7 linked regions of the Homo sapiens genome follow. The protein of the gene in region 1 purifies or fractionates together with the protein of each later gene. This does not show direct contact. Each region holds a gene or a part of one and is shown in the gene's direction. Other genes may lie near its edges.

What was found.
Region 2: the proteins of SLC51A (region 1) and PTPRF purify together in Homo sapiens (affinity purification with mass spectrometry; one large-scale study listed by BioGRID and IntAct). This does not show direct contact.
Region 3: the proteins of SLC51A (region 1) and LSR purify together in Homo sapiens (affinity purification with mass spectrometry; one large-scale study listed by BioGRID and IntAct). This does not show direct contact.
Region 4: the proteins of SLC51A (region 1) and NCAPG purify together in Homo sapiens (affinity purification with mass spectrometry; one large-scale study listed by BioGRID and IntAct). This does not show direct contact.
Region 5: the proteins of SLC51A (region 1) and GOSR1 purify together in Homo sapiens (affinity purification with mass spectrometry; one large-scale study listed by BioGRID and IntAct). This does not show direct contact.
Region 6: the proteins of SLC51A (region 1) and FUT8 purify together in Homo sapiens (affinity purification with mass spectrometry; one large-scale study listed by BioGRID and IntAct). This does not show direct contact.
Region 7: the proteins of SLC51A (region 1) and NIPBL purify together in Homo sapiens (affinity purification with mass spectrometry; one large-scale study listed by BioGRID and IntAct). This does not show direct contact.

What each region holds. Positions count from the first base shown.
Region 1 is NC_000003.12:196,219,534-196,223,033, forward strand, and holds part of SLC51A (organic solute transporter subunit alpha), read left to right. Parts: exon of another isoform or gene 1-858; intron 859-3,500. UniProt on the Homo sapiens protein: Essential component of the Ost-alpha/Ost-beta complex, a heterodimer that acts as the intestinal basolateral transporter responsible for bile acid export from enterocytes into portal blood. Efficiently transports the major species of bile acids (taurocholate).
Region 2 is NC_000001.11:43,607,383-43,610,882, forward strand, and holds part of PTPRF (receptor-type tyrosine-protein phosphatase F isoform 1 precursor), read left to right. Parts: intron 1-941; coding exon of another isoform or gene 942-953; intron 954-2,000; coding exon 2,001-2,116; intron 2,117-3,500. UniProt on the Homo sapiens protein: Possible cell adhesion receptor. It possesses an intrinsic protein tyrosine phosphatase activity (PTPase) and dephosphorylates EPHA2 regulating its activity.
Region 3 is NC_000019.10:35,259,002-35,262,501, forward strand, and holds part of LSR (lipolysis-stimulated lipoprotein receptor isoform 2 precursor), read left to right. Parts: coding exon 1-63; intron 64-69; exon of another isoform or gene 70-820; intron 821-1,997; exon of another isoform or gene 1,998-2,401; intron 2,402-2,923; coding exon 2,924-2,980; intron 2,981-3,500. UniProt on the Homo sapiens protein: Probable role in the clearance of triglyceride-rich lipoprotein from blood. Binds chylomicrons, LDL and VLDL in presence of free fatty acids and allows their subsequent uptake in the cells.
Region 4 is NC_000004.12:17,820,979-17,824,478, forward strand, and holds part of NCAPG (condensin complex subunit 3), read left to right. Parts: intron 1-2,004; coding exon 2,005-2,145; intron 2,146-2,668; coding exon 2,669-2,792; intron 2,793-3,500. UniProt on the Homo sapiens protein: Regulatory subunit of the condensin complex, a complex required for conversion of interphase chromatin into mitotic-like condense chromosomes.
Region 5 is NC_000017.11:30,487,408-30,490,907, forward strand, and holds part of GOSR1 (Golgi SNAP receptor complex member 1), read left to right. Parts: intron 1-2,718; coding exon 2,719-2,810; intron 2,811-3,500. UniProt on the Homo sapiens protein: Involved in transport from the ER to the Golgi apparatus as well as in intra-Golgi transport. It belongs to a super-family of proteins called t-SNAREs or soluble NSF (N-ethylmaleimide-sensitive factor) attachment protein receptor.
Region 6 is NC_000014.9:65,716,730-65,720,229, forward strand, and holds part of FUT8 (alpha-(1,6)-fucosyltransferase), read left to right. Parts: intron 1-3,500. UniProt on the Homo sapiens protein: Catalyzes the addition of fucose in alpha 1-6 linkage to the first GlcNAc residue, next to the peptide chains in N-glycans.
Region 7 is NC_000005.10:36,970,769-36,974,268, forward strand, and holds part of NIPBL (nipped-B-like protein), read left to right. Parts: intron 1-107; coding exon 108-268; exon of another isoform or gene 269-972; coding exon of another isoform or gene 973-1,083; intron 1,084-1,176; coding exon 1,177-1,273; intron 1,274-3,500. UniProt on the Homo sapiens protein: Plays an important role in the loading of the cohesin complex on to DNA. Forms a heterodimeric complex (also known as cohesin loading complex) with MAU2/SCC4 which mediates the loading of the cohesin complex onto chromatin.

The sequences.
Region 1 (3,500 bases):
TCTGAACCAGAGCGGTTGCCAACTGCCAGTGTCCGGAGATGCCTGGTGGCCACTCTGTGGTTAGTGGCAGTAGGTGGCTGCTACATCTAGTTCCAGTGAACCTCCTGTTGAGAGAGTGCAGCTGGTGGTACAAGCCTTCCCTTACACAGCAGCTGTCCCCCCAGGGAATATTTGGCAGTGTCGGGAGACTTCCGGTTGCCACACTGGAAGGTGCTACTGGCATCTCGTGGTCAGAGGCCAGGAAAGCTGCTAAACTTCCTACAGGGCACGGGAAGAGCCCCCACAGAAAAGATTATTCAGGCCAAAGTGTCAATAGTGCTCAGGTTGAGAAACCTTGCCTCACGCAATGAAAACGGTTCTCACATTGCTTTGCTTCAGAATGTGCAAACGGAAACCCCAAGGCTGTTCAGAACAGGCCATTCTGAGTCTGCTAGTCCAGCAAGCCTCGCCGCAGGCAGAGTGGGGAGGATTTGGCCAGCGGGCCCTCCTGGGACAGGGAAGCTGCGAGGATGAGTTCGGGGACGCCCCAGGCCCAGGGGAGCGAGGTCTGGCAGGATTCAAGGATCCTGGTGGAAGAGCAGGGGACAATTGAGAGGGCCGGGCAGGAGAGGTGAGGCCCGCTGCGCGCCGGGCTGGCGGAGGAGCTGTGCTTTATCCCGCAGCGAGAAGGAGCTCGTGAAGGCTCTGAGGCTGGGAGTGGCTGGATGAAAGTCGTGCTTCTCGGCCATTCGTTAGTAATCAGGATGGACTGCAGAGGAAGAGGCTTAAGAAGCAGGGATGCGGCCGGACACCGTGGCTCATGCCTGTAATCCCAGCACTTTGGGAGGCCGAGGCAGGCGGATCATCTGCGGTCAAGAGTTCAAGATCAGCCTGGCCAATGTGGTGAAATCCTGTCTCTACTGAAAATACAAAAATTAGCCAGGTGTGGTGGCGCGTGCCTGTAATCCCAGCTACTCAGGAGGCTGAGGCAGGAGAATCGCTTGAACCCGGGAGGCAGAGGTTGCAGTGAGCCGAGATCTCACCATTGCACTCCAGCCTGGGTGACAGAACAAGACTCCGTCTCAACAACAGCAAAAAATAGGCAGGGATGTAAATGAGAGGTCGTTGCCCCGGCCTGCCATGCGGGAAAAGAGTCTGAGGCAGGGCAGTGGCAGGGAAAGAAGAGGAAGGGTTGGGAAACAGGCAGTTCAAAGAAAGAGCAGGCAATCTAGGAAAGACCTAGGCGTGTAAGTGCTGGTTCTGGGCAATGGTGACGGCACAGCCAGAAATAGGAGAAGCAGGAAGAAGTGCCTCTGGGAGGCTGTGGCGAAACTCCTTCCTCGCTTCATTTGTAAACTTTGTTGTTCCTTAATTTTTCTTTTTTTTTTTTTTTTTGAGACAGGGTCTCACTGTGTCACTCAGGCTGGAGTGCAGTGGTGCGATCTCGGCTTACCCCAACCCTCCACCTGCTGGGCTCAGGTGATCCTCCCACCTCAGCCTCCCTAGTAGCTGGGGACCACAGGCACATGCCACCAAGCCCAGCTAATTTTTGTATTTTTTTGTAGAGGTGGAGTTTCTCCATGTTGCCCAGGCTGGTCTCGAACTTAAAATTAAATGCTAAGAAAACTATTTCAGGCCAGTCACGGTGGCCCATGCTGCAACCCCAGGAGGTCGAGGTTGCAGTGAGCTATGATTGCACCACCAGCCTCAGCCTGGGCAACAGACCGAAACCCTGTCTCAATTTAAAAAAAAGAGAGAGAGAAAAAAAAGCTATTATTCTAGAAGAATGATTGAATCAATTTTTTTTTTTTAATTTTAAAATCACGGCTCACGGCAGCTCGAGCTCTGGGCTCAAGTGATCCTCCCACCTCATCCTCTCGAGTAGCTGGGACTGCAGGCACACACCACCATGCCTGGGCTAACTTTCAATTTTTGTAGAGACAGAGTCTGACTTCGTTGCCCAGGCTGATCTCAAACGCTCCAGCTCAAGCGATCCTCCTGCCTCGGCCTCCTGAAGGGCTGGGATTACAGGCGTGAATCACTGCGCCCGGCCTTAAAGCTACTTTTTATTGAACAAATACTACACGCCAGGTGCTTTGCTAAGAAGCTTAAGGAGAGGATAAGTAACCTGTCTATGGCCATAGAGCTATTAGTAAGTGGCATTTTACTTTGTTTTTGTTTGTTTGTTTGTTTGGTTTGGTTTTTTGTTTTTTTTTTTTAAGAGACAGAGTCTCGCTCTGTCCCCCAGGCTGGAGTGCAGTGGTGTGATCTCAGCTCACTACAAGCTCCGCCTCCCAGGTTCACGCCATTCTCCTGCCTCAGCCTCCCGAGTAGCTGGGACTACAGGCGCCCGCCACCACACCCGGCTAATTTTTTGTATATTTTTTAGTAGAGACGGGGTTTCACCGTGTTAGTCAGGATGGTCTCGATCTCCTGACCTCGTGATCCGCCCGCCTCGGCCTCCCAATGTGCTGGGATGACAGGCGTGAGCCCCCCCGCCCGGCCTGGCATTTTGCTTTGAACTCAAGTGTCTGACTCCAGTGCTCTACACTGTGCTCCTAAGCTACTGGAAGCAAATATGCAAGCATGGAAATAATTTTTGGTTAGAAAGCTGGGATTATGGGTGATTACTCTTTTTTCAAATTCTTATTTAATGTTCCTGTTTTCATTATTTTAAAAAGTAGTCTTTGCTATTCCAGAGACAGTGGGAAATTTAATAGTTGCTATAAGTATGATTATATTCAAAATGGTCAACTAGACAAGCATTTCCCAAAGTCTCAGACTCTTAATCCCAAGGAGTCCTTCATGGAAACAGAGTTCTGTAGGAAGTTAAGTTTTGTGACCAGGCACGGTGGCTCACACCTGTAATCCCAGCACTTTGGGAGGCCGAGGCGGGTGGATCACTTGAGGTCAGGAGTTTGAGACCAGCCTGCCCAACATGGTGAAACCCTATCTCTACTTAAAATACAAAAATTAGCTGGGCATGGTGGTGGGTACCTGTAATCCCAGCTACCTGGGAGGCGGAGGCAGAAGAATTGCTTGGATCCACGAGGCGGAGCTTGCAGTAAGCCGAGATCGCGCCACTGCACCCCAGCCTGGCGACAGAGTAAGGCTCCATCTCAAAAAAAAAAAAAAAGTTAAGTTTTGTAAAAGGTGCGTTCTAGACCCTCCTTTTGGAAATTTACAATGTAAATTAGCAGATTAAAAATGTCAGTATGCTCTGCAGGAATCATCACATTTAACCTTAATGCATTTCCAAAAATTCTTCAGCTGTGGAATACTTTTGTCCCATAGTGTCTATTTAGATGCCCTTTTGGGGAAATTGAGTTTAACCAGCAAAGAAGAGGCCATCTCCTAAGAAGATAGTTTGATGGACAGACCCAGTATCGGGCTATGGATGCTAAGGAACTTTTCCTTTCCTAATTAGAGTACCAAAGGCAACAGTTAGAAGACACTGCAAAACCATTTGTGTTGAACAGTCAGAATCTGCCCCACCCTCACCTTCATAAATGGAACGGCCC
Region 2 (3,500 bases), on another chromosome or scaffold:
CTAGAGAGGTCGAGCTGGAGGCCCACAGGCCATGGATGCTCACTAACAGACATGACTGATGGCCTGCTGTGCCCGTGCCATCCGCAGCGGCCTCAGCCTCAGTGTGTCTTTCCCACTCAGTTCTCTATCGGCAGTGGCCACCACCTGCCCTAGGAGTCTCCCTTCCTATCCGTGCACCTTCCAGCCTGAAAGGGATTTCCAAAGATTTAACTTTGTCACTCTCAGTTTAAAACCTTTTGATGGCTGCCCACGTAAAGCCCACCCTCTTTAGCCTGACAGCCAAACACCTGGCTAATCTGACCCCTGCCACACTCCTGACATTGCGACACTGAACTCATTCAGTGTTCAGGCCCACACAGGGTGTGCCCTCTGCGGATCTCCCTCCCCCTGCCCACTTGGCAACAGCAATCTCATCGTTCAGGACTCAAGTCCATGCTCTGGTGCCTGCAAGGCCTTGCCTGGCCCCTACCCCTTCCTTGCACAGCTGTCCCCTGTGATGCTCCACTGCAAACGCAGCTGGGCCTGTGTGCCAAGCCTTCAGCCCCCAGCACTGGGCTGAGCCCACAGGCATGTCAGTGAGCACCTGGCAGATGAAGATATGCTAGTCTGTGTGTCTGAGCACATCTCTGCACCATGCAGGAGAGCCTGTATCCTGTGTGCCTACCCTGGACCCACTGTTCCTTCCTAAAGAGTCCACTCCTTCCTCCCAGGGTGGATGGACCTGTGGGCGGGTCCCTAAGGAGTGTCCCACAGATGCACTCATCCTTCCCACTTCCACCTGCATTCTGGGTCTGTCCAGAGAGGTAGACCCCCTCCCTGTGAATGTCATGTGGGTGCCATATAAGGGGCCTGCAGGGTCCCCATGTCATTAGAGGGCTGAGTGCTTGGTGGAAACTGTGACCGTTCCTTTCTTCTGTCCTTGCTTGTCTTTCGGGACCTAGTAAACAAGAAAGGTAGGAGTTGTTCCTTCTCTCTTCACACACCTCCCCCTCTACTTCTAATCCTTGGGCCAGCAGGGAGGGATGACGCTTTGACCAGAAGTCCCCTGGCCTATGGCTTTAAGCAGCAAACTGTCCAGTCAGCTCAGCAGGCTCCCTGGTTCAGGACTGAGTCCTCATTGGTGTGAGGAGGCAGTTTCTGTCTCACTCTTGCCAGTTCAACTCTGCAGAGGATGCTTCTTCTCTGGGGCACATACATAATACAGACTGCATTGCTTTCCCTGAGCGTACAGAGCTCACCAGAACCATCACCCGGCTCCCAGTTCTCTGAGAAGTTGCCTAAGTGCTGCGAGAGACAGTCTCGCACAGAGCAAAGAGCAGTCACTGTGTGGAACAGCAGAGAGGCATGTCCTTGTACCCACCTGAGCACACTCACTCAAATTCTTCTTTCCGAAGCACATGCGTCTGCAGACCACAAGTAGCCTCTGGCTATTTGTTGGCAGCTGAATCCTATGGTCTGTCTCTGACCCTGTCCTTGTAGATGGGAAAACTGAGGCCAGTGAGAGAGGACTCTGCCCAGCTAGGGTGACGCCTTTCCCGTCCCTCCCCTGCTGCCCTGGGCATTTACCCTGATACTCTGAGGGCCAAAAAGCTGGGGCCCTGTCTCCTGTGCTGTTTGTGTATTTTATGTGTCATTTGCATGTTTGTTCCCGGTGGTTCCTGCTACTCAGCTGGGTGGCCTTGGAGATAGCAGTCACTGTCCTGCAGTGACCTGCCTTCTATCCAAAGGAGCTGCTCGCCCCTGCAACCCCTTCCTCCCTGCTGCACTGCCCCTCTGCTCACGCCACACTCCTGCTCTCCCTACCCCCTCCCTGCCCTGTGTTCTCTCATGTCAAGGCTGTTCTGGCCCTGGCTCCTCCGCGCTCAGAGATCCTGGGAAGAGGTGGGGCAGTAGGAGGACAGAGCCGTGGACATGGGGGCTCCTTGGCAGCCAGCCATGCCATGTGTCACTGTCTCAGCCTGGACCTCAGGTTCTCACCAGCCTCCCTTCTGTCTCTCTAGGAAAAGGACCCACTCTCCGTCCTCTAAGGATGAGCAGTCGATCGGACTGAAGGACTCCTTGCTGGCCCACTCCTCTGACCCTGTGGAGATGCGGAGGCTCAACTACCAGACCCCAGGTAGGGCACTCCTATGGCCTGTGTGCCCCCAGCCCAGACCTAGCAGGCCTGTGGGTCTGTTCTGCAGGTCTCAGGGTCGCCACTGAAGTTCCTGGGCCGCATGCACTTGTTCCTGCTCCTTTTCTTCCTTTCTGCCCTTCTCCCTGTGCTCATCCACTTTGGTTGGAATGACTGGGGAGCCCCCATATCCTGCAGCTGGACAGGTGCCCCAGGCCAGGACCCTCTTAGGTGGCAAAGCCACTTAGCCACTGCCTTGTCTTCAGTCAAGGCCTCTGAATATGGGCTGAGGACCTCCCAGAGCCCACGTCTCTGCCACAGGGTGGCCAGTGTCTGGCGCACGCTCTGACGCCTCCACATGAAAGAGGGGCATGTTAGCAGTGGGAGATGCCTCACCAGACATCTGTGGGGAGATGAAGTGCCTGCACCTGAGCCTTCCTGGAGGCCGACCCCAGGTTTACCATACCACGTACCTGCCCCTTCTCCTAGCCACTCTCATGGGGCTGTCCACCTCTTCCTTCTACCTGAAATGTTACTCCTCCCAACACCCAGCAGACACAGCTCAGACCTCTCCTCTTGCCCACACCCCCACAGGGTTAGGTGTCTCTTCTTGGCTCCAGGAACCTCCCTCCTTCTTCCTTTTGACGCCTCTCACAGTGAGCTGGGATTACCTCAGTGACAGTCTCTGAGCTCTGTGGTGCCAGGAACTGTGTCTTGTCATCCCCCATCCCTTGTATTCAGCGCACGATGGGTTCTTGTTGAATGCCTGTGAAATGAACACACAGACAAATGAAGGAATGAGTGAACTAATGCATACACACAGGGTTTGTGTATGTATGAGCTGGTTATTCTGCATGTCAAATTACCCCAAAACTTAGTGGCTTAAAACAACAATAATTATGTATTATCTGTCACAGTTTTTGTGAGGCAGGAATTCAGACAGGGGCACAGCAGGAACAGCTTGTCTTTATTCCAGAAAGTCTGGGCCCTCAGCCGGAAGACTTGAAGGCTGGGAGCTAGAGTCATTTAAAGCAGGGGTTGGCAGACTATGGCCCGTGGCCAAGTACAGCCCACCACCTGTTTTTGTAAATAAATTTTTACTGGCTGGGCGTGGTGGCTCATGCCTGTGATCCCAGCACTTTGGGAGGCTGAGCCGGGTGGATCACCTGAGGTCAGGAGTTCGAGACCAGCTAATGAAATCCCATCTCTACTAAAAGTACAAAAATTAGCCAGGTGTGTGGCCCCTGTCATCCCAGCTACTCAGGAGGCTGAGGCAGGAGAATCACTTGAACCCAGGAGGTAGAGGTTGCGTGAGCCAAGATCGTACCATCGCATTCCAGCCTGGGTGACAAGAGCAAAACCCCATCTCAAAAATAAACAAATAAAT
Region 3 (3,500 bases), on another chromosome or scaffold:
CCGTGGTCTCAGCCCAGGACCTCCAGGGGAACAATGAGGCCTACGCAGAGCTCATCGTCCTTGGTGAGTGGGCCTGGGAAGGGGGAGGCATGGCCCTTCCTTTTGTCCGCTTCTGTTCTGTCTGCCCTCCCCTGTGTCCGCCCTCTGCCCTCCAGCTTACCCTCTGGGCTCTGTCGCCTGCTCTGCTCTCCCCCAGGCTCTGCCAGTCACTTAGGCTCCCCTGTGCCCTGCACCCCAGGCAGGGACCACTGGCCCACAGTGCCTCCAATCACCCAAGCCAAACTAAGAGAAGAGTGGAGACAATTGGAGACTCTGCCTTTTCAAAGTCTCATTTTTAAAAAAAATCCAGACTTGGGGTCCGGGTGCGGTAGTTCATGCCTGTAATCCCAGCACTTTGGGAGGCCGAGGCGGGTGGATCACTTGAGGCCAGGAGTTCGAGACTAGCCTGGCCAACGTGGCAAAATCCCGTCTCTATAAAAAATATAAAAGCCAGGCGTGGTGGTGCACATGCCTGTAATCCCAGTTACTCAGAAGGCTGAGGCATGAGGATTGCTTGAACCTGGGAGGCAGAGGATGCAGTAAGCCAAGATCAAGCCACTGCACTCCAGCCTGGGCGACAGAGTGAGACTCTGTCCAAAAAAAAAAAAAATCCAGACGTGGTCAGAGTCCATGGGCAGTGAATGAGGACAGTTGATGGTGTGCAAAATCGACCCACCTCTTGCTACATCCCCAAGGCCTCATCTCACCCGAGTCCCTCGCCAAAGCACAGCGGTTTTGCCGTGTGCCCTGCTGGGATGGCGCTGCATGGCACACACACTGTGTAAGTTTGAGTGCAGCTGAAACGAAGCCGATTCCAGACACCCAGGGGCAGGGCGGGGTGTCCGTGTGGCTGGGAGGCCTCCTTGTGTTAGGGGGATGTTGCCATCGGCCAGGTGCCCTGCTGTAAGCCAACACATGGAGTCTTGTATGACATGTGCTCTGCATGAGTGATGCCGCTGGGCTGTACACTGCCATCTTCACATGTGTGAATGAGCACGTGACTGGGGGGTACTTGGGCTGCAAGACAGAGTTCATGTGTGGGGGATGGAACACGTGCACCAGTGACCCAGGAACCTCTGCCTGTTCTTCGGTAAAATGCACCATTTGCATCAGCAGTTCCCAAAATTAGTCTCCAGGTCTATTTACACTCTAAAACATTATCGAGGGTCTCCAAGAGCTTTTGTTTGTTTCTGTGGGTTTTATGTCTATCTGTTGCTTAACATATTAGGAATTAAAATGGGGAGATTTTCCTTTTTTTTTTTTTTTTTTGAGATGGAGTCTCGTTCTGTCGCCCAGGCTGGAGTGCAGTGGCTCGATCTCGGCTCACTGCAAGCTTCACCTCCTGGGTTCACGCCATTCTCCTGCCTCAGCCTCCCAGGTAGCTGGGACTACAGGCACCCGCCACCACACCCGGCTAATTTTTTTTGTATTTTTAGTAGAGACTGGGTTTCACCATGTTAGCCAGGATGGTCTCGATCTCCTGACCTCGTGATCCACCCACCTGGGCCTCCCAAAGTGCTGGGATTACAGGCATGAGCCACTGCCCGGCCTTAAAATGGGGAGATTTTTCAAGCCCAAGATACACAAGGAAGACTGGGCAACATGGCAAGACCCTGACTCTACAAAAAATTTTAAAATTAACCAGGCATGGTGGCATGCACCTGTGAGCCCAGCTTCTTGGGAGGCTGAGGCAGGAGTATCGCTTGCACCCAGGAGGTCAAGGCTGCAGTGAGCCGTGACTATGCTACTGCACTCTAGCATGAGTGACAGAGACCCTGGCTCAAGAAACACAAACACACACACACACACACACACGCATATAGTCCATTAGGCATCAGGGCGATGATGGCATCAGGGAGCCTGGGAAACTCTACTGGACATTCATGGGAGAACAAGTGAAAAAGGCAAATAACATCTTAGTGTTATTCTAAAATTTCTTCTTTTGGCCTTGTGGACAGGACCACGCTTTGAGAGCTGTGACTGACATGCCTCTGTCCTGTTGCGAGGGCCTATAGTGCCAAGTGCATGAGCTCTGGGGAGGGCTTCGTGGGTGCAGAGCTGGGCCTGTGGAGGCCCCTCAGACACAACACTGGTGGGGCTCAGAGCTCCAGGGGCACTCGAGGGAAGACAAGAACCGGCTCTGAGATGCGTGAATGTGACAGTGCATGAGTAGAGATGGAGACCTTGTGGGTCCCAGAACCAGGACTGCATATGACTTTCATATGTGGGTATTTTTGCCTTCATGGGTCCCTTCCTGTTTTAAAAAAAATGTGTGATTATGTTGTCACAAAGAGTTTATTCCTGTATATTGTGTTAATTTGTGTTCAGATTTGTAAAGTAAAATTAAACCATTTCAGCCAGGTGTGGTGACACATGCCTGTAGCCCTAGCTACTTACCCCAGAGGCTGAGGTGGGAGGATCGCCTGAGCCCACGAGGTTGAAGCTGCAGTGAGCCATGATCACACCCCTGCACTCCAGACTGGGCGACAGAGCTGAGATCCTATTTCGTGGGCCCTAGGTCCCTGTGCCTGCTGGAACAGGACATCCCTATCACCGTGGTTGGAGCCCTTTGGGGTGCTAAGACCTATGAATGAGGGAAACTTAGGGTGCCCAAGCTGAGGTAGAGCCCTCAGAACCCCCTGGGATTTGTATTGGAGCCCTCGTGGCATAACACAGGTGGATTATGCAATGGGAGTTTCTTACCTATAAGCACCCACATGTGGGCGGGTGGAGGGTAGGAGCCATGCACTAGGGCTTCAGCCCCCAGCCCCTTCCCGCTTCAGGGCACACCTTGCACTTGGCCAGCCTGGAGCTGGGCTTTCGGGGGTGGCACAGCCTGGGCTGGCTCTGGCCAGCATAATCTGTTTCTCTTTTGTCCCTCCAGGGAGGACCTCAGGGGTGGCTGAGCTCTTACCTGGTTTTCAGGCGGGGCCCATAGAAGGTACGGGGGGTGGATCCTGAGTTGGGCTTCTCGGGAGCTCCCATACATCACCTACTGCTTCTGACTCTAGTTAGTATCCCCTTCCCCACTAAACCCTGCTCACTGTGGACCCCTCACTAACCTGGCCTGACTGTGGCTCTGAGGCATCTAGTGGTCTGGCGCTGGGCCTAGGCTAGGCTGGGCTGAGGAGAGCCTGGGGTGCAGGCCAGGGCTCTGTGACTGGCACCTGCGGTGCTCTTGAGGGTGTGGCGTCTGGGCAGCTGGCTCTCTCTTTGGTCTGGGGGCTGCAGTCTGTCTCCCTCTGTGCAGGCTGCCTCGTTTTCTGCCTTGTGTTTTTTGCACCTGGGGGAGGGCCGTAACTGGGGAATGGCCGGGATGGTAGAATGGGGAGTGTGCTGTGCCCAGCCTCTGGCACAAAAAATCCAGCCAGGGCTGCAGGTTCCTTGGTGAGCTTTGCAAATCGTCCCCGACCTCAGTGCTGGCTCCGCACCATGTACCCCTGCTGTGCCGTTAGCCCTGT
Region 4 (3,500 bases), on another chromosome or scaffold:
TGAGTGGTCTCTTCATTATAATAAATGTCTTTATAAATGGTTAGGATTTCATGGTAACTAAAATTGGTGGGTCAGTTTTAAGTTGTATTTATGCAGTTGAGGATTTTTAATCTATTAATTAAACAACTGTTTGAATTTACTTAAAAAAAAAAACTCAGTCAAGATGCTGTGCATTTTGCTAAAGCTGGGCTGGAGAAGTGGGGAGAGATACAAAGATGAGTATAAATGAAGGTTTTCTTTTAGCCTGTCAGAAAAGAGTAACTCTACTGATTGGTTGATTTTGATAGTTATCGGTAGTGTAGTTTTCCTTAGTTTCCTACTAGAACCCAAAGGGTGGCTGATGTCTTAAAAGTCCTAATCTTGTGGCCAGAAATTTATGAGCTTTTATTTACTCTTGGTCATCACTTTGTAATACATGAGAGTATACTCATTATACATTATACCACAATTTCTGTAACTTGGTTTTTGTCACCCCCGCCTTTTTTTTTTTTTTTTTTTTTTAAGAGACGTAGTCTTGCTTTGTTGCCCAGGCTGGAGTGCAGTAGCGTGATCTTGGCTTACTGCAGCCTCTGCCTCCCAGGTTCAAGCAATTCTCCTGCCTCAGCCTCCTGAGTAGCTGGGATTATAGGTGCCTGCCACCACATTTGGCTGGTTTTTATATTTTTAGTAGAGATGGGGTTTTACCATGTTGGTTAGGCTCTTCTTGAACTCCTGATGTCAAGTGATCCTCCCGCCTCAACCCCCCGAAGTGGTTGGGATTACAGGTGTGAGCCACTGTGCCCGGCGACATTTTTGACATTTTTTAAATGACATTTTTGATCAGGATTGTTTTTCATGTTACTTCCATCTTAAAGGCACTTCGCTGTCTAAGCTTCAATTCTTAGTTCTGCTTTTAAGTAGCTTTTTTTATTCCACACAAAAAGCAGAGGCTACTGAATATACAGCCTTCTTGGTGAGGATTATAAAGGGCTTTAGTTTGGGTGGTGATGTCTGTAGTAAGAATAAAAAGTTAAAATAAAAGGTAGCTGATGGTGGTGGTGTATACAGAGATTAGTAGGGTTTCTAAGAAAGAATAATAAAAATTTGTGAAATTGTTTCTATTTTTCTGATTTTTTTCAAAAAAGATAATTGTATTCATGGATTACTTGTGTAACTATTGTTACAATTTTTAAAAATAAAAGAATGATAATTAGGCATGATGAAGATTAAATCTTTTTTTTTTTTTTTTTTTTTGAGATGGAGTTTTTCTCTGTCACCCAGGCTAGAGTGCAGTGGTGCGATCTCGGCTCACTGCAACCCCTGCCTCCTGGATTCAAGCAATTCTTCTGCCTCAGCCTCCTGAGTAGCTGGGATTACAGTAGCCACCATGCCTGGCTAATTTTTTTGTACTTTTAGTAGAGACAGGTTTTCACCATCTTGGCCAGGCTGGTCTCGAACTCCTGACCTTGTGGTGCACCTGCCTCGGCCTCCCAAAGTGTTGGGATTACAGGTGTGAGCCACTGTGCCCGGCTGAAGATTAGATCTTTATGACTAATTGGATTTTTGGGTAAGGGATTCAGAACTTGATAGATGCTTCTTGACTTAAAGTGGGGCTATGTCATAAGTCAAATGAGTTTAATTCTCAGATAAACTCATCCTAAAGTTGAAAAATTGTAAGTTGGGCCACCTGTAATTGGGGACCATCTGTAATTGGGAGAATGCTAGTGACATTGAAATAATTAGTTATCAGTTAGACATAAATATGTACCTTTTGAAAATTTCCCATAGAAAATTTGAGTCATTATTGAAAATACATTTTCAAATTCTTTTGATTCATCAATAAGTTTGTTTGCAAAAGTTAATGACAGTGGCATAGAATTGAGTTTGTAGACCAAATTACATGGCATAGATATGTATTTAGACGAATATGACCTGAAAATGGCCCTTTTCTGACCTAATGGTGGGAATCAACTCTTGTTTGATGTTTCTTAAAAGATTCTACTTTATTAATTCTGCTTGTTTTAGTTACATCCAGAGCATTCCAGTTGTTAATGAAGAACACAGAGGTGATTTTTCCTATATTGGAAATTTGATGACAAAAGAATTCATAGGTCAACAATTGATTCTAATTATTAAGTCTTTGGATACCAGTGAAGAAGGAGGAAGGTATGTCTAAATGTTAACACTCATTCTAATTTGCCCTTCTAATTTCTTATATTGAAATATAGTCCTTTTACAATATAACTAAACATATTTACCCTAGCTCTCTAAAGTGGTATAAAAAGTTTTCTTTTCCCTTCTACATATTTCCATATATACACATACATTTATATTTCTAGTTCAATTTCCTCAGAATAAATCAATGAAATTGCAGTTTTTGGTTAAAAGTTTCTGTTTAGATTTATTAAGGCTAGTAGCATTTTCTAAAAGGTTTAATCATTTCTGGTATTTTGTCATTTTATCATGTTGATTTATTAAAAATCATAGGGTGTTTTATAAAAATTTTTTTTTGTGTGGAATAAGAATATTTGACCTAAAGTCTGTACATACAGATTTTTGTACCTATTATAGTGATAAACCTAAGTGAAAGAACTGAGGCAAATGTAATTAAGTTTGCAGAGTAGGTGAATGTTAGAGATAAAACATGTTTTGTCATAATAATATTTAAATTAGTTCTTTTTGACTGCAGAAAAAAACTGCTGGCTGTTTTACAGGAGATTCTTATTTTACCCACAATCCCAATATCCCTGGTTTCTTTTCTTGTTGAAAGACTACTCCACATCATTATAGATGATAATAAGAGAACACAAATTGTAAGTAATTTTCCTCATTGTTGATAAAGAGGTTTTGGTCAATGACATTGAATACTGTCTTATTTTCTGTTTAGAACTTTTTGTTTTGTCTGTTTTGTTTTAGGTTCGTCTCTTTAATGAGTTTTAAAATTTCTTAAAACCATTATCTATCTCTTACATACACAGAATATTTGAAAAATGTCACCTTCTTCCTCTTAGTGTACCTGTTATTGTTGAATCAGTTTGAAATGGAGCAGGTTTGGTAGGAAGTTACAAGTGGGGATATGGTTTTGTCCATGAGGCACTGGGTGCTAGTGTTTTTGAGAGCTTACTCAAATTGTACATACTAGGGTTTAGAATCTCATCTGACACTTTCTGGCTTTGTGGCTTTGGACAAGTTATTCTGCTGTTTTACTTGTCTGCAAATAAGAATAGCAATGAAATCTACCTTTCATTTTTCAATGAGGTATTGTTCATAAAGGTATTGTTCTGTATTGCTTGATAAATACAGAAATAATTGTTTACTATAATACTATTTCAGTGTTATTTTTTTCTGGCATAGCCAAAAAAGACAGATCTGTATCATTTATTTCATAAAAATCACATAATTTCAGTTGCAGGTTAATTCACAGATCATCTCTTCCATCCTCTCCTTATATATACACCCCTTCTACAACATGCTTAGTTGTTATTCAGCATCTGCTTAAATACTTTCATTTGGGAGGCAGC
Region 5 (3,500 bases), on another chromosome or scaffold:
ACTGGAAACCATAACGAATGGCTAATTTGCTTACTACACAGAGATATAATAGAAATAAGAAAAAGACAGTAGGAAAATGGACAAAGGATATAAAATTGCTTACAAAAAAATGAATGGCCAAAACTATAAAAACATTTTCAGCAGTATTTCCAAATAAAAATACAGAAATCTAAAAGAGGTGATTTTTCACATGTCAGATTAGCAAATGTTGAAACATTTATAACCCATTATTGGCAAGAGTAAAAATTTAAAAAGGGTACTCATATATTGCTGGTGGGAACATAAATTGATGTAATGTTTATAGAAGGCAGTTTAGCACTACCAGAATTTAAATGAATGTGAGATTCTTTGATCCAGTTATTCTTTTTTTTTTTTCTTGAGACGGAGTCTCGCTCTGTTGTCCAGGCTGGAGTATTGGAGTGCAATGGTGCGATCTCGGCTCACTGCAGCCTCCACGTCCTGGGTTCAAGCGATTCTTCTGCCTCGGCCTCCCGAGTAGCAGGAACTACAGGTGTGCGCCACCACGCCCAGCTAATTTTTGTATTTTTAGTAGAGATGGGGTTTCATCATATTGATCAAGCTGGTCTTGAACTCCTGATGTCATGATCCACCCACCTCGGCCTCCCAAAGTGCTGGGATTACAGGCATGAGCCACCGTACCCAGCCCTGATCCAATTATTCTATTGCTAGTCATTTACTCCTTTTTTTTTTTTTTAAGCTCTGTTGAACTTAATAGACATTTACTCTTTAAATATACTTTTTTTTTTTTTTTTTTGAGACAGAGTCTCACTCTGTCACCCAGGCTGGAGTGCAGTGGCGCGGTCTTGGCTCACTGCAACCTCTGCCTCCCGGGTTCACACCATTCTCCTGCCTCAGCCTCCCGAGTAGCTGGGACTCCAGGCGCTCGCCACCATGCCCGGCTATTTTTTTGTATTTTTAGTAGAGATGGGGTTTCACCGTGTTAGCCAGGATGGTCTCCATCTCCTGACCTCATGATCCGCCTGCCTTGGCCTCCCAAAGTGTTGGGATTACAGGCGTGAGCCACTGCGCCCAGCCTAAATATAGTTTTTTTTAAAATAAAAGAGTTCAGTTTAAAAAATATATGTAAGAATGTTTATTGGCAGTATTTTTTTTTTTTTTTTTTGAAACAGAGTCTCGCTCTGTTGCCTAGGCTGGAGTGCTGTGGTATGATCTCAACTCACTGTAACCTCTGCCTCCCAAGTTCAAGTGATTCTCCTGCCTCAAACTCCTGAGCAAAGTAGCTGGGACTACAGGTGCGTTCCACCACACCGGCTAAGTTTTGTGTTTTTAGTAGAGACGGGGTTTCGCCATGTTGGCCAAGCTGGTCTCGAACTCCTGACCTCTAGTGATCCGCCCACCTCAGCCTCCCAAAGTGCTGGGATTACAGGCATGAGCCACCCTGCCTAGTCTTGCAGTATTTTTAATAGCAAACAAAATGAAAACAACTAATGTGTTTATCAGTAGGGAATTTATTAAATTGTGATAGTCATAAGATAATATTCTATGCAGCTATTAAAAAGAATGATGTAGATTTCTTTTTCCTAATATGGAAAGATTGCTTGATACTTTATGAAGTACAAAAAGCAAGGTGTACATCAGAATGTATATTATGACTTACTTGGCAAAGTGAAAGAAATAATAGATAAGCTTGTATATGTAAAAACATATTTCCTGGCCAGGTGCAGTGGCTCACGCCTGTAATCCCAGCATTTTGGGAGGCCAGTGTGGGTGGAACTGTTGAGGTCAGGAGTTCAAGACCAGCCTGGCCAACATGGTGAAACTCCATCTCTATTAAAAATACAAAAATTAGCTGGATGTAGTGGCACGCTCCTATAGTCCCAGTACTAGGGAGGCCAAGGCACTAGAATCGCTTGAACCCAGGAAGTGGTGTTTGCAGTGAGCTGAGATGGCACCACTATACTCCAGCCTGAGCGACAGAGCAAGACTCTTGTCTCCAAAAAAAAAGAAAATAATAATTTCCTGGAAGAAAATACAAAATGATGGTAACAGTTATGAGGTATGGAGCAGAATGTTTTGTTTTCCTTTGTTTCACCTTTATTTCTTTTGGTGCTCTTTTAATATTCTCCTCCATGTTTATGTGTTACTTTTGTTTTTTAAAAGGTCAACAGGGACTCTGGGAGACAAGATTTTGATTTTCTTCTTTATCTACATCTCTGAATTTATGAAAAGTAATGAAGTACTTTTAACAGTGGTACAAAAATAGTAGAAAATGTTTAAAGATTATTTTGTTCCTTATAATTCTCTTGATTCTGTTCTTTTTTGTTTAGGAATTAAATTTTTTGTGAGAGCTCCAAAATGATGAAATTTGAAAATAAGCTCTATTAAGTATACTACTAAGTAAAAAGAGCCTCTCAAGTTTTCTCCTAGACTATTTGAAGTTATTTTATCTCAGAATTTTTTTCTTCTTAATTCTGCCTCGTAAGACAGAGTACTAGGAGGTACAAAGGATAGTGATTTAATGGCACTGTTTCCCTAGCACTGAATTATTTTCACTTGAAAGAAGTTGGTCACTCTTCAGGAAAGTAATTTTAAAGTTATTTTTACCTTTGGTTAATTTGATTTCTTAAATAGCAGTTTTCTTGACAAATTTACAGTGTGATGACGATACATAACTGGTTCAGTGAGATGAAAATCCATAATTAGCTTCTGTTGAGACTGGATGTTGATTTATTACAGGATTATACACATGAATTCCATAAAACCAAAGCAAACTTTATGGCAATACGGGAAAGGGAGAATCTTATGGGATCAGTACGAAAAGATATTGAGTAAGTTACTTTTTATATTATTTTGTAGAATATTTATTCAGATTTGGCTTTAGGATATGTTCACGGTTAATTGCAAATTGAGTGGCAGAACCGTGGTTGAGATTTTAGGGTTTCCAATTCCCATTTCACTGTCTTTTTAACATTGCTGCTACAATGTCATCCTAATCTACTTTTCCATTTTTATCTCATGCTTCCTCTTACTTTATCATTGGCTCCTGCCAACCTTGACTTTCCTGTCTTAATTCAAAGTCCAGCTTAGGTGGTTCTTCATGGTTCTCTGATCTCTTACCTCCCACCCTAAGAATTATAATGTTACTTTTATGATCCTCTGCAGATGTGTCAAAGAAAAAAAAATTCTTTAATTGTAACATTATCAGTAACTGAAGCTCCCTATGTTTCTCTTCCTGATTATCACCTATCCCCTGGCCCTCTCCCTTGTCCCAACAGTTACATATTACAAACAGTAATATGTACAAACTCACTCATAGCCTTATGTTAAATTATTTAAGGACTCCCAACATTCTCATACTGATCTCAATCTATAATTTTAAATATTTGTTTTTTTCTTCTGTCCCTTCACCTCACCTTTAATGATCTATTCTAGCATTTCATAGCATTTTTGGAAATTTTTTTACAACTGAACACTACTGACAAAGTTAAGTCCCATGGGCGTCTCATTGAAGCTGAAGA
Region 6 (3,500 bases), on another chromosome or scaffold:
CGATGGTCGCTGTCTCTTTGGAGCTGTTGGGTACACCTCCCAGATGGGGCAGCCAGGCAGAGGCACTCCTCACTTCCCAGACGGGGCGGCCGGGCAGAGGCGCTCCTCACTTCCCAGACGGGGCGGCCGGGCAGAGGCGCTCCTCACCTCCCAGACGGGGCGGCCGGGCAGAGGCGCTCCCCACTTCCCAGATGGGGCGGCCGGGCAGAGGCACTCCCCACTTCCCAGACGGGGCGGCCGGGCAGAGGTGCTCCACACTTCCCAGACGGGGTGGCCGGGCAGAGGCGCTCCACACTTCCCAGACGGGGTGGCCGGGCAGAGGTGCTCCCCACTTCCCAGATGGGGCGGCCGGGCAGAGGCGTTCCCCACTTCCCAGACGACGGGCAGCCGGGCAGAGGCGCTCCTCATTTCCCAGATGGGGCGGCCGGGCAGAGGCGCTTCTCACCTCCCAGACGGGGCGGCCGGGCAGAGGCGCTCCTCACCTCCCAGACGGGGCGGCCGGGCAGAGGCGCTCCTCACCTCCCAGACGGGGCGGCCGGGCAGAGGCGCTCCTCACTTCCCAGACGATGGGCGGCCGGGCAGAGGCACTCCTCACCTCCCAGACAGGGCAGCCGGGCAGAGACGCTCCTCACTTCCCAGACGGGGCGGCCAGGCAGAGACTCTCCTCACCTCCCAGATGGGGCAGCTGGGCAGAGGTGGCTCCTCACATCCCAGACAGGGCAGCTGGGCAGAGGCGCTCCTCACTTCCTAGACGGGGCGGCCGGGCAGAGGCGCTCCTCACCTCCCAGACGAAGGGCGGCCGGGCAGAGGCGCTCCTCACATCCCAGACGATGGGCGGCCGGGCAGAGACGCTCCTCACCTCCCAGACGGGGCGGCCGGGCAGAGGCGCTCCCCACTTCCCAGACGGGGCAGCCGGGCAGAGGCGCTCCCCATTTCCCAGACGGGGCGGCTGGGCAGAGATGCTCCTCACTTCCCAGACGGGGCAGCTGCCAGGCAGAGGCGCTCCTCACCTCTCAGACGGGGCGGCCTGGCAGAGGCACTCCTCAGTTCCCAGACGGGGCGGCCAGGCAGAGGCGCTCCTCACCTCCTTCTTTGTCCCTTTTTATAGTTTTTTTTTCTTGAAATCTATTTTGTCTATTACAGGTATAGCTACTCCTGCTCTTTTTTGGTTTTCATTGGCATGAAATATCTTTTTCCATCCCTTTATTTTTAGTCTGTGTGTCTTTATAGGTGAAGTATGTTTCTTGTAGGTAACAGATCATTGAATTTTGTGTTTCTTAGCTATTCAGCCACTCTATGTCTTTTGATTGGAGAATTCAGTTTGTTTACATTTAGTGTTATTAATAATAAGTAAGATCTTACTCCTGCCATTTTGTTATTTGTTTTCTGGTTATTTTGTGGTCTTCTCTTCCTTCTTTCCTTCCTTTCTATTTTCCTTTTAGTGAAGGTGATTTTCTCTGGTGGTTTGTTTTAATTTCTTGCTTTTTATTTTTTGTGTATTCATTGTATGTTTTTTGATTTGAGATTATCATGAGGCTTGCAAATAACTTATAGCTCGTTATTTTAAACTGATGACAATTTGGCACCGATTGCATAAACAAACATGCAATCAAAAAGAAGTCTAATAAATACTCTGTACTTTGTCCCCCCAACTTTTTAACTTTCTGTTATTTCTATTTATATCTTATGGTACCAAGTATGTCTTGAAAAGTTGTAGTTATTTTTGATCGGTTCATCTTTTAGTCTTTTACTTAAGATATCAATAGGTTACATACCACAATTACAGTGTTATAAAATTATGTGGTTTTTTGTATGCTTAGTATGACCAGTGAGGTACCTTCAGATCATTTTTTAATTGCCCATTAACACCTTTTTTCCTTCAAATTGAAGGATTCCCCTTAGCATTTCTTGTAGAACAGGTCTGATGTTGATGAAATCTCTCAGCTTTTGTTTGTCTGGGAAAGTCTTTATTTCTTCTTTAAGCTTGAAGGATGTTTTCACTGGATATACTATTCTAGGGTAAAAGTTTTTTTTCCCTCAGTAGTTTATGTCATACCACTCTCTTTTGGCCTGTAATGTTTCCACTGAAAAGTCTGCTGTCAGACATATTGGAGCTCCATGGTATGTTATTTATTTTTTCTTTTGCTGCTTTTAGGATCCTTTCTTTATCCTTGACCTTTGGAAGTTTGGTTATTAAATGCCTTGAATGGTAGTCTTCTTTGGGTTAAATCTGGTTGATGTATAACTTTCTTGTACTTGAATATTGATATCTTTGTCTAGAATTCGGATGTTCTCTGTTTCATCCCTTTGAATAAACGTTCTGTTCCTATCTCTCTCTGCCTCCTTCTTAAGGCCAATAACTGTTAGATTTGCCCTTTTGAAACTATTATTTAGATCTTATAGGCATGCTTCATTGTTTTTCATTCTTTTTTCTTTTGTCTCTGTTGACAGTGTATTTTCAAATAGCCTGTCTTTAAGCTTACCAATTCTTTCTTCTGCTTGATGACTTCTATTAAGAGACTCAGTATGTCAGCTGCATTTTTCAACCCCAGAATTTCTGCTTGATTCCTTTTAATTGTTTCAACCTCTTTGTTAACTTTATCTGATAGGATTCTGAATTCCTTCTTTGTGTTATCTTGAACTTCTTTGCATTTCCTCAAAATAGCTCTTTTGAATTCCCTCTCTGAAAGGTCACATATCTATGTTTCTTCAGGATTTGGTCCCTGGTGCCTTATTTAGTTTGTTTTTCAAGGCCATGTTTTCCTGGATGGTCTTGATGCTTGTGGGTGTTCATTGGTGTCTGGGCATTGAAGGTATTTATCGTAGTCTTCACAATCTGAACTCTTTTGTACCTGTCTTAGAAAGGCTTTCCAGATATTTGAAGGGAGTTGGCTGTTGTGATCCAGTTTTGGTCATTGCAGCCATATCTACATTAGGGGGCACCCCAAGCCCGATAATGCTGTGGTTCTTACAGACTTGCAGAGGTACTACCTTTGTGGTCTTAGATAAGGTCTAGAAGAATTCTCTGGATTACCAAGCAGAGACTCTTGTTCTCTTCCCTTACTTTGTCCCAAACAAACGAGTCTCTGATTCTGTGCTCCAAGCCTCTTGTAGTTGGGGGAGTGGTGACACAAGCACTTTTGTGGCTACCACCACTGGAACTACACTAGACCAGACCTGAAACCAGCATAGCACTGGATCTCACCCAAGGCCCAGTGTAACCCCTACCTGGCTACCTCCTGTGTTGGCTCAAAGTTCTAGGGCTCTATAATGAGCAGGTGGCAAAGCCAGTCAGGCTTTTATCCATCCCTTCAGGACAGCAAGCAAGTTCCCCTGGGCCCCAGGCAGGTCCAGAGATGCCATCTGGGAGCCAGCATCTGGAGTTGGAAACCTTAGAACCCTATCTGGTCCTCTATTCTCCTGCAGCTGAGCTGGCATCCAAACCATAAGGCAAAGTGCTTCCCACTTTTCACTCCTCTTTTCATAGGCAAAAGAGTCTC
Region 7 (3,500 bases), on another chromosome or scaffold:
TTATTCTCTGTAATTTCTATATGCTTAAAATATTTGTGAATAATTACTATTCTCCAAGAATGTTAAGAATCTTTTATTAAACCTTTTTTTATTCTTATTAATTTCAGCATCGGTATCAAGTCCCATTGTTGCAGGTGGTTTGAGAAACATACATGATAATAAAGTTTCTGGTCCGTTGTCTGGCAATTCAGCTAATCATCATGCTGATAATCCTAGACATGGTTCAAGTGAGGACTACCTACACATGGTGCACAGGCTAAGTAGTGACGTATGTAATATATTATCATTAAGGTGATAAAATAGTTCTAATATTTGTCATATAACCTAGTATTTCCATTTCAAAATTTGAATGATACCTACCGTATATCATTATACTGGGTACTGAGTACAACATGGCTCCTGCACATACAGAGCTTAGTCTAGAGCAGGATTGGTCAAGTGTGACCAGTAGCCTGAACCACAAAGTGAGAATGGTTTTTACATTTATAAAGAGTTATTTAAAAAAAAAAAAATGTGATAGAGACTGTATGTGGCCCACAGAGCCTAAAATATTTATTCTCTGTTCCTTTATAATGAAAAGTTGGCTGACCCCTGACCTTGAGGTTTAGGTTCTTAATGAAATATTTCAGTTTTAGGTTAATACTGCTCACACTAAAATTTTTTTTTTTTTAGATAATGAGCCTGTATTTATTAGTACTTGACTCTTTTTCCCTCTGATACTTGTACAAAGTTTTGTGTCTGAAATTTAATATTGCCTTGATGTTATTAAAATATTCCACATTCTGGAAATTTGCCTTGTTATTGATTTGATTGTAATTTATGTAAGCTGCATGTGTCTAAGGATAACACAGATGACAATAAACTCTGCCCTCAAGTCATTTACCACCTGGTAGAGTATTCATAGCTCCTTTTGTAGAAAAAAGCAAACAAAAATGGAGCATACTAGTAATACAAATTTTCTTATTCATTGCCATGCTTAGGCTGTTGATTCTTTTGGATACAATTTCAATTCTTCTAAGATATACCAAGAAGAAAACAGGAAAGTGCAGAAGAATTATGCTTTTGAATTCCAACACTTTACCTGTCAGTAATTTATGTCTCTTATTGGTTCTCTTTTAAGATTTCTATAAAGCCTCTCCTGTCATTCAAAAGATAAATTGTATACTCTATTTTTAGGATGGAGATTCTTCAACAATGAGGAATGCTGCATCTTTTCCCTTGAGATCTCCACAGCCAGTATGCTCCCCTGCTGGAAGTGAAGGAACTCCTAAAGGTACTACTGTAACTAAAATTTCCTTCTGTATATTTTATATTTGAAGTTGAATAAAGAACTCAGACTTCCTAAAGCAGATATTAAAAAGTTATTCTGTATTTTTTTTTCATTGTAGAAAAAAAAATAAACCTGTACAAGCAGGTCTGGATCATGGGATTTAAATCTGTCCCTATTCATTGATTCATTTATCTTCCACTTACCCAGTAATCTGTTGATAGTATTCTCGGATACATCCAGTATCCATTCTCTTTAATAAATCCAGTGGTCTTTTCAAACCACAACGTTCTTCTCTTAAACATTTGAAAATTTTGATCAGCTTTCCTCTTTCCTCCAAAAAGACTTATTTCATATGAGCCCATCTGTTTTTCTCCCACTTCTTTCATTGATACTTTTTTTCTTCATTAGCTCCTCTCCTTATTCTTATTCTTCTCAAGATTTCTATTATTAGACCTTTTATCACTCATTGTACTTTTTTCCCTGGCCGTTTTATTAAGTTTCATTAACAGCATTGATTATTTTCATGCATAAGACTCCTAAATCAATCTTTGGCTCCAGTCTTGTCTCCCAAGTTCTAATTCTTCATTTCCAGACAAAACTTCCTTCATACCTAGCGGATATTTCCAATTCATCTTCAAAATGGTTTTCACTGTTCTTTCTACCATCCCATCTGTCTTAATGCTATTCCAGTCCTGAATCATTGTAACTTAAAAATTTTAAGTTATCATAAAGCCTCTTTTCAACTATTTAGTCATTTATCAAATCTAACCTGTTCTGTTAATTTTTAAATCTCTCACGTCTACTTTTATCTCTGCCTTTTAAAATTCTTTTATTCCAGATCTAAGTTAAATGGGTGATCTTCCATGGGCCCTCCCCTAATCTCCTCAAGCTATTAGTTTATATTTTTTGTAAGAACTTTTACTACTTTATGCACACGAATTTCAGTTTATCTTTGAATTTTCAAAGAACCTTGCATGGTCTTCTATCTGTAACAGATTCACAAAATTGTGAATTTAAGTCCAGGTTTGAGCCAGTTTTTAAAATACTTAAAATTGTAGTCAAATAGCTTTAATTATCAGTTTGTTGGAAGAGAAAACTGTCTTCTACTTTTTAAAATTAGCTTATAATTAATTTTAACATAGCTGGTAATATATTCTCTCAAGTAATGAGAATTTCTAATTATAGCCATCTGAAACATAAAGATATTTTACCTCGTATCTGCTTCATATGGTAAAGATCTTTTTTTCACTGATTGTGTTCGTACTATTTATCAAGGACATTTTTCTTTTTTTTTTTCAAAAATTTTTTAAAAATTTTATTTTATTTTACTTTAAGTTCTGGGATACATGTGCAGAATGTGCAGGTTTGTTACATAGGTATACATGTGCCATAGTGATTTGCTGCACCTATCAACCCGTCATCTAGGTTTTTTTTCTTTCTTTCTTTTGAGACAGAGTCTCGCACTGTCACCCAGGCTGGAGTGCAGTGGCATGATCTCGGCTCACTGCAATCTCCACCTCCCGGGTTCAAACGATTCTCCTGCCTCAGCCTCCTGAGTAGCTGGGATTACAGGCACATGCCACCACGCCCGGGTGATTTTTTTTGTATTTTTAGTAGAGACAGGGTTTCACCATGTTGGTCAGGCTGGTCTCGAACTCCTGACCTCGTGATCTGCCCGCCTCGGCCTCCCAAAGTGCTGGGATTACAGGCGTGAGCCACCACACCAGGCTTGTCGTCTAGGTTTTAAGCCCCGCCTGCATTATGTATTTGTCCTAATGCTCTCCCACTTCTTGCCCCCTACCCTCCAACAGGCCCTGGTGTGTGATATTCCCCTCCCTGGGTCCATGTGTTTTCATTGTTCAGCTCCCACTTAAGAGTGAGAACCTGCGGTGTTTGGTTTTCTATCAAGGACATTTTTCATAGAGTGAAAGTTGAGCTGTTATGAGCCATTTCAATTCTGTAAATTGTATGAATTTTCAGGGATAAAAACCCGGCTTCTGAAAGAGAGAAAAACTTCCAGAGTAACTATTTGTAGGTTAGATACATATCCCACAAGTGTTGTCAAGGTGAGAAGTTATTTAGATTGCCGGGGAAAGAGAACAGGGAGATAGGTGATTGATCTAGATAACTAGCTTTTTTTCTTCTGACTCTTGAGATTAGATAGATAAATAGTAGATGAACTTTAGATAGAAATGGAAAACTTTAAAACAAATAACCTCACTAATATATT